Homo sapiens: one gene and its partner. The protein of the gene in region 2 purifies or fractionates together with the protein of the main gene of each other region. This does not show direct contact. Each region holds a gene or a part of one and is shown on either strand. Other genes may lie near its edges.

Region 1 (3,658 bases), on a different chromosome or scaffold from region 2:
TAAGTATGGTTATCATCAAAATATGGGAGAGAAGGGAAGAGGAATGAATCGTACTAAATGAAAAAGTGGCTCTGCGTGATCTATAAGTGGACTAGCACTAGACTAAAAGTCAGAGGATCTTCATTCAGCTCTGCCACTTTAGTTATATGTCCTTTTACGTAATGCTGGGGAGGGGTTCAGGTTTGATACTTAGGAACCTTCCTATGACATAAACCCTAGGTAATCTATGTGAAAATATCTTAAAAACTAAGTGGTGTCTGTAATCCCAGTGCTTTGGGAGGCCAAGGCGGGCAGATCACAACGTCAGGAGATCGAGACCATCCTGGCTAACACGGTGAAACCCTGTCTTTACTTAAAAAAATTAAAAAAATTAGCCAGGCATGGCGGCACGCGCCTGTAGTGCCAGCTACTCAGGAGGCTGAGGCAGGAGAATCACTTGAACCCGACAGGTGGAGGTTGCAGTGAGCCAAGATCACACCACTGCGCTCCAGCCTGGGCAACAGAGTGAGACTCCATCTCAAAAAAAACAAAAACAAAAACAAAAAAAACTAAGTGGTGTGTAAAATGGTAAAGCAGTGTAGCTCAGACTTTACATGAATTGATTTCCCAGTCATAGAGACCTAGTTGAAGTTCTGGCCCTACCACTTAATAACTGTGTGACTTTGGACAGTGTACTTAAGTAAGGTTAAGTTTTCTCACGTTTAAATCTATAGATGGTGCTATTAAGTTAGATCATGAATGTAAAATGCCTAGAACATATTTTGTAAAAAAAATTTTTAATTAATTTTACTGATAACTACTTTGATTTTATATACTGAATTTCTAAAGACTTAAGACAACCCACAGAATTGACTGATGTCCCTGTGAGCAGCAGGTTTGGGGCATGAAGAAGAGAGTAGAATTTGAAAAGAAGCTATTACCCAAAAAATGGGGGAACAAGAAAAGTGTACTTGTAGCAAAGATTCTAAAACAGATTTATTAATTTTATCTGAAAAATATCAAGATAAAGTCCCTTATTTGGGCAACTGCAGTGTCTTAATATTTTCTATATAAAGATTTTCCAAAGCTTGTAATCATTAATGTATGGAATAAATTTAAGGAGGCAGTTCTTCAATTTTGAAGTTTTTATTCCTGCAATGGATTATAGAAGTATATTAAAATTGTACAGATTGTAGAGCAGGGACTTTTGAGTTAATGCTTATAAGCTTAAAAATTTTGTCTTTTTAAAAAAATTAAGTGTTTTTATATCTTATTTTTATCCTTATATGAAATAGACAAAGAAATGTAGAGAACATAATGGAGACATAAACTAGAGTAAAATTCTTCCCTTCTTAAATTCATGATTCACAAGGGTTAGTAGTTTTGCAATGGAAAATATCAGCAAATTAAACAGTAAGTATAGCTATCATGAGTTTATGAATCACTTTATTCCTGAAAAAAAAAATTACTCATTTGTCTTAAGGAAAGATTTTATTAAGTTTATTGACTTTTCCTTAATGTTGATTGTCTATTATAACAAATGGATTTATTGATTTAGGAATGAATTTATTCTTTATACTAAGTAACTTTATTTTAAATAAATGAAATGTGAGCAATAAAAATGTTTTCCATATAATTTCTGAAGAGAATATTAGTTTTGCTATTCTCTTTTTTCCCTATGGTGAAATGATAGCGACTTTGGTTTTTATAAGTGTATTCATTTATATTTAGTATATACATATTATGTATATACTATATATAGAGTAAATATTTGTAGTATATAAAGTACGCAATGTGTGTGTATGTATATATAAAGACAGCTGAAGTGGTTGTGTATCTTCGTAGTAACATATTTATTTTTACCTGAAACTACTGAAGTGATCTTTAGAATAATGATTTATTTACATTTGAAACTCCTCTTTCTGTATATTTCTTTGTAGTTAGCTCTAGTTAATAAATTTACAACTGTGATTAGCTGTTTTTAAAAATTAATGGTATATCATAAGTATTTTCAGATTTAAATTTTAGAAGGAAACACTTTCTTATATCTTAAGGTTTTAAAAATCACTATTATTTTTGGTATTATTATGACTAACAACAAAAATTTCAGTTTTGGATCTTAATGCTATCTGTTGAAACTGTTCTCTTGGTAAGCCTTTAAAAAAATTTTATCTGCAACATGCCACATTTTGTTTCTTTTCTGAAAAATAATTAAGCTTATTTCACTGAAAATAAAATGGGTGGTATATGATATGATATAGAAGAGTTTCAGATGTGCTTGAGCAATGAAAAGCAACCAGACTTTATAAGTTTTTAGTTCTTAGTTTAATTTTTTTAATGTTTAAAGGTACAATAGAGAAGACTAATTGAATTGGAAAATACCTTTAAAATTGAAAAAAGAGCATATGTATAATAATAATAGTATATACATATGGAAAAAGTTGTAAGGAAATGCATCAAAATAAGTAATTATCTCTAGATTGATGCATTAAAGAAAAAATTAAAATTTATTACTATACCTTCTGTATATTTGAATTCATAATGTCAGTAGGCATTGCAAAATATTTCTTAATTTGATATGGAAAATTAAGGCACCTAAATAATTCTTTCATCTTAACTACTTGGATATCTTAAGTGAAAATGTTTTGTCTCATCCAGGTAGCTGAGTAAGTTATTTAATTTTATAGGTGTGTAAATATATTTTTAATTTTAAGTATATAAGTGCAGCAGAATTTTAAAAAGCAGAGTAAATCTCAGTATATAAGATAATTTACCACATTTCAAAGGGATAATTCAATCCAATGGTGAAAAAGGGCACATATATATCATAAATGTTAACTGATACAACTTGCTCATCTAGAAGAAAATATAATTGATCCAATACATTGCAACAGATGCAAAAACTGATTTCAGATGGATTAGAGGCTTAAATGTAAACAATAAAATATTTAAGATATTAATCTCCTAAATTTCCTTTATACAAACAATCCAGATGTAGTTTTTTAAACCAAGATAGGAAACCTAAAAGTCATAAAAGTATGGATAGACACATGAGACTGCATGGAAACGAAGGATTCTTTAGTGGCAAAAATAAAGGACCAAAGACAAAATCAGGCGGAAAAAAAGGCTTGAGATATATGTAACAGATGAGTTAACCATTGAAAGAACTCTTTCCAATTAAGAAAAAGTTCACCCAGTAAAAATATGGATAAAACATGTCACCAGAAGTTCACAGAAGAGAAATCCAAACATTCAACAAACAGTAAAGGATGTGTAACCTTACTAGTAATCAATATACTAACAATGAAATATTATTTCTCTGACAAGCAAAAATTAAGTGGTAAACCTACTGCTAGCAGGGATATGTGGAGAAGGATTATCTCATAAAATGCTAGCGGAGATGTGAAGTGTTAGAGTTTTTCCTAGTAAACAATCAAGCAACATCAGTTAATACTGAGAATACATGTATTTTCCACCCATCAGTCTAACTCCATGTAATCTTTTCCTTAGAAATAAAAGCACCAGTAAGAGTTTACAGGAGTGTTAGCTGCAACAGTGTTTCAATTTTCAATGTTAGTAGTGGCAAAAAACGTGGAAACAAAGGGAATGCCTGTTAATAGGGGTATTGTTATGTAAATTATGGCCGAGGCATTTTATGGAATGTTGTGAAGTGATTAAA
Region 2 (3,658 bases):
TGCATTGATTATGAATCCCATTGATACACAGGCATATAGATCTAGTTAAATCACAATCTCTTTGTTGCCATAATAATGGGCATATGAATGATATACAATTTTTTAAAAATTACACACACTGCTGCAATGATCATCCTTGCACATACTTCTATGCACACGTAGGGATTTACCTAGGTTACATGACTAGAGAAATTCTGAAACAATTTTCATCCTACCACTCTCTCACACAATATTTTCAGTTTACTCTGTTTATAGGATAAAATCTAGACTTTTCTGGTTGACTTTCAAAGTCCTTGAAAATCTCAAACATATTTTCTGATATTTTCATTCTCACATCCTTCTACTCTTAGCCAGTTCCCTATTTCATGAACACATTTATCTCTTAACCTAGAATCCTTTCTGTTTCCACACCACTGATTCAAATATTTACCTTATTTAAAAGTCCTACTAGAATTCTTCCTTTTAGACTAATTCAGTTCACAGGGGACTGTTACCTTACAGTTGTTATCGATGAAAAATCATATAAAGCAGACTAAAAACAGCAAATAGCGCTGCATTTGATTTTCATCAGAACCAAGTGGTGACTGCCAAAAGAAAAAACCCTGTGGGTTTTTAAAAGCAGGGAACAGGGCTCAGAGTCTATTTTCAACATATATTTGTAAATTTGATTAACATACATTGAATTCTGTGATTAACAGTATTGGCAAATAAGTTGACATATAACATGTCATTTCTCCCCCTCTGAAGAAACGATCACAACAACAATTCAAGATTTATTTCCCAAAGTGATGAAGAAAATGAGGGTTCCCATAACTTTGGGCTGCTGCTTGGTTTTGTTTCTCCTTGGTCTCGTCTGTGTGACTCAGGTATACTACAGCATTTTTTTTCATAGAAACATATTAGTTGGAACATACTTTATAACCTAACTAAAGAAACCAAAGCTTAAGAGGATGCTTAGTGACAAGTCCAGGTCTGACTTGGATCAAGGTTTTCTGGGTTTTAGCCCATTTTTCTCCATTATTACTTTTATAGAAAGTCTATTTTGCAGATGAGGAGGCCGAATAATGGACAGTTACTTCAGTTACAATAAGATTACAGACTTTAAACACATACTACATTTCTCACAGCCACTTCAGAACATACAGACATTGCATACCATTCTGATAATCAACAAATTTAAGTGCTTATTTTCTTTCCAGTGACTCAGTATAGATTGAAAGATTCTTGAGATATTTAAAGTCACATTTGAGTTTACATTTGAAACATTGCTTTTCGCATTTTAGCAGAAGGGAAACTAAGGAGCATATGTCAAGATCAAATAAATAGATTCAATTTGAATATCCCATCAATCATAAAAACAATTAAAATATACTTAGAAGTAATTAACATTTTTTTGGTAGGCTGGAATTTACTGGGTTCATCTGATTGACCACTTCTGTGCTGGATGGGGCATTTTAATTGCAGCTATACTGGAGCTAGTTGGAATCATCTGGATTTATGGTAAATAGTAACTATAAAATTATTTTCCAGTTTTATTAAAATAGTTTAGTTTGATTCATTTTCATTATATTTACCTAATTATACTATTAATTTTTATACTATTATAATAGCAAAGTACAATATACTGCACAACATTATGTTATGTAAAAATATAATTACAGGTGTATGATTCATTGTTGTGGTAGAGAAAAATGTTTAGACACAGAAAGATAATTGATGCCATAATGGTTACTGGAAGAAAATATTAGCAAGCACTCAATGTACTCTTTGTTTTCTTTAGGAGGGAACAGATTCATTGAGGATACAGAAATGATGATTGGAGCAAAGAGGTGGATATTCTGGCTATGGTGGAGAGCTTGCTGGTTTGTAATTACGCCTATCCTTTTGATTGTAAGTAATAATACACCATGAACTTGATTTCGATAATACATATGTTCTAAGATAAACTTAATAATTCACATTGAAGACAAAAGGCAAATTAATTTTATAAAGGAATGATTTTCAAGTTTTGCAGTATTTATGGCTGGTGCCTCCAAGTTGCCTAAATTAAAATGCCTTTGCAGTATTATTTTGAGGCCATCAGTTTAAACATTTACCATTTGAGAAAATAAACAGGTTCGTATAGATGTAAAAGTTATCAGTAATTTAAAATTTATCAATACAAAAAATGAAAATAAAACATGAATTTGCTCATTCCCTAAAAAAATATGTTGAGCCATCAATAATATTCCTAACCTCTCTGCCAGGCACAGAAAAAACAAAGATGCATAAGGCCCAGATCCTCTCTTCAAAGAATTCAGTTTAAATATACTGACTGCTGAGAAACAACAGTCATATTTTAATTCATATTTTATCTCTTAATGAGGGAGGTATTTGGCAGATGATAGTAAAAGAAACTTACCTGTGTCAATAAGGGCAATGGTTTATGTCAATAAATTCAACAATTAATACTATTTAGAAGCTGAGGTAAAGCAAAAGTATGTCTTACTCGAGAGACATAACTTATCAACTTAAAATGTTCAAATAACATTTCAGGACAGTAAATGGCTGAGCACCAAAATAAACACTACACTGGAGGGAGAATGATTATGGACTAGAAATAATGGTGGTGGGGTGAGGCAGTGTCAAAGCTTCATAGATTTATTTTGGTTTTCATTGCCTTCATGCTTCAAAGGTTTTCCTAGAAAAGACCATTAAGTAATTCTATGCAGGATTTCCTTCAAATCTAAAGTACCACATTTGTTTGTAGAGAGGATTACATTTTTTTTTTTAACATTATGAGATCACTTTCAAAAGCTGAGCAGTTTGGAACGAGATCATGGTGAATTAAAATATTTGGATATTCCATATTTTTGCTAAATGATTTTGAAAATGACACTAAATATTTTTATTTGACAAGTCTCCATAATAAAGTAAGCCCCCTTGTCAACTTAGAAGGTCTAGCTGGATCACTTAACAAGCTAATATTCAATGATTACATAAGTTTGACACCTGAATTTAATTTAAAATGCAAAAGTATTAGATATGAAATGATTTACATTGCCATCTATTTTTTATAAAGTCATGTGTATTGGACTCCACTATCCCTCATCCATTCTTTTGTAGTTATGTACATTCATAGTAACTGTAAAGTATATTTAAATTACTGTAATTAAATTAATGGAGCTAAGCCATTTAATTTTAAAATTAAACATAGATCTATTTATTGTTTTCTCGCTGATTTTAATAAAACAAAAACAGCTAAATTTAAGGAAGCTCCTTAATAATTATTGGGTTTTGTTTTGTTTTGCTTTACCAATTTCTAATTAATTAGTTTTAATGCTTCAACATTTCGGGTTTATTTTAACTTGGCCTTATAATGTGTTCATCTTTAACATTCAGATTTGACTGTATTGCCTAAGCAGATATTGAGGGTTTTTTTGTTTGTTTTTTGTTTTTCCCTCAGTAAGATGCTGGAAGTGAAATGTGCTTTGGTAAATGCTCACCAATAATGTGTGTAAATGCATGTGTGTTTTTGATGTGTCAAAAGGGGATCTTTGTGCAGTGGGAAAGAATAGAAGCAATTCCTAAGCAAGGAGAAAAGCATGCCCACTAAGGTGTACTTCACATTCTCATTGTATTAATCTATATGCTGGCATGTAGATTTAATCTATGGCAT

Evidence for each region.
Region 1: the proteins of SLC6A14 (region 2) and ATP6V1A purify together in Homo sapiens (affinity purification with mass spectrometry; one large-scale study listed by BioGRID and IntAct). This does not show direct contact.

The regions. Positions count from the first base shown.
Region 1 is NC_000003.12:113,749,963-113,753,620, forward strand, and holds part of ATP6V1A (V-type proton ATPase catalytic subunit A), read left to right. Parts: intron 1-3,658. UniProt on the Homo sapiens protein: Catalytic subunit of the V1 complex of vacuolar(H+)-ATPase (V-ATPase), a multisubunit enzyme composed of a peripheral complex (V1) that hydrolyzes ATP and a membrane integral complex (V0) that translocates protons.
Region 2 is NC_000023.11:116,453,577-116,457,234, forward strand, and holds part of SLC6A14 (sodium- and chloride-dependent neutral and basic amino acid transporter B(0+)), read left to right. Parts: intron 1-747; coding exon 748-866; intron 867-1,400; coding exon 1,401-1,500; intron 1,501-1,780; coding exon 1,781-1,890; intron 1,891-3,658. UniProt on the Homo sapiens protein: Amino acid transporter that plays an important role in the absorption of amino acids in the intestinal tract. Mediates the uptake of a broad range of neutral and cationic amino acids (with the exception of proline) in a Na(+)/Cl(-)-dependent manner.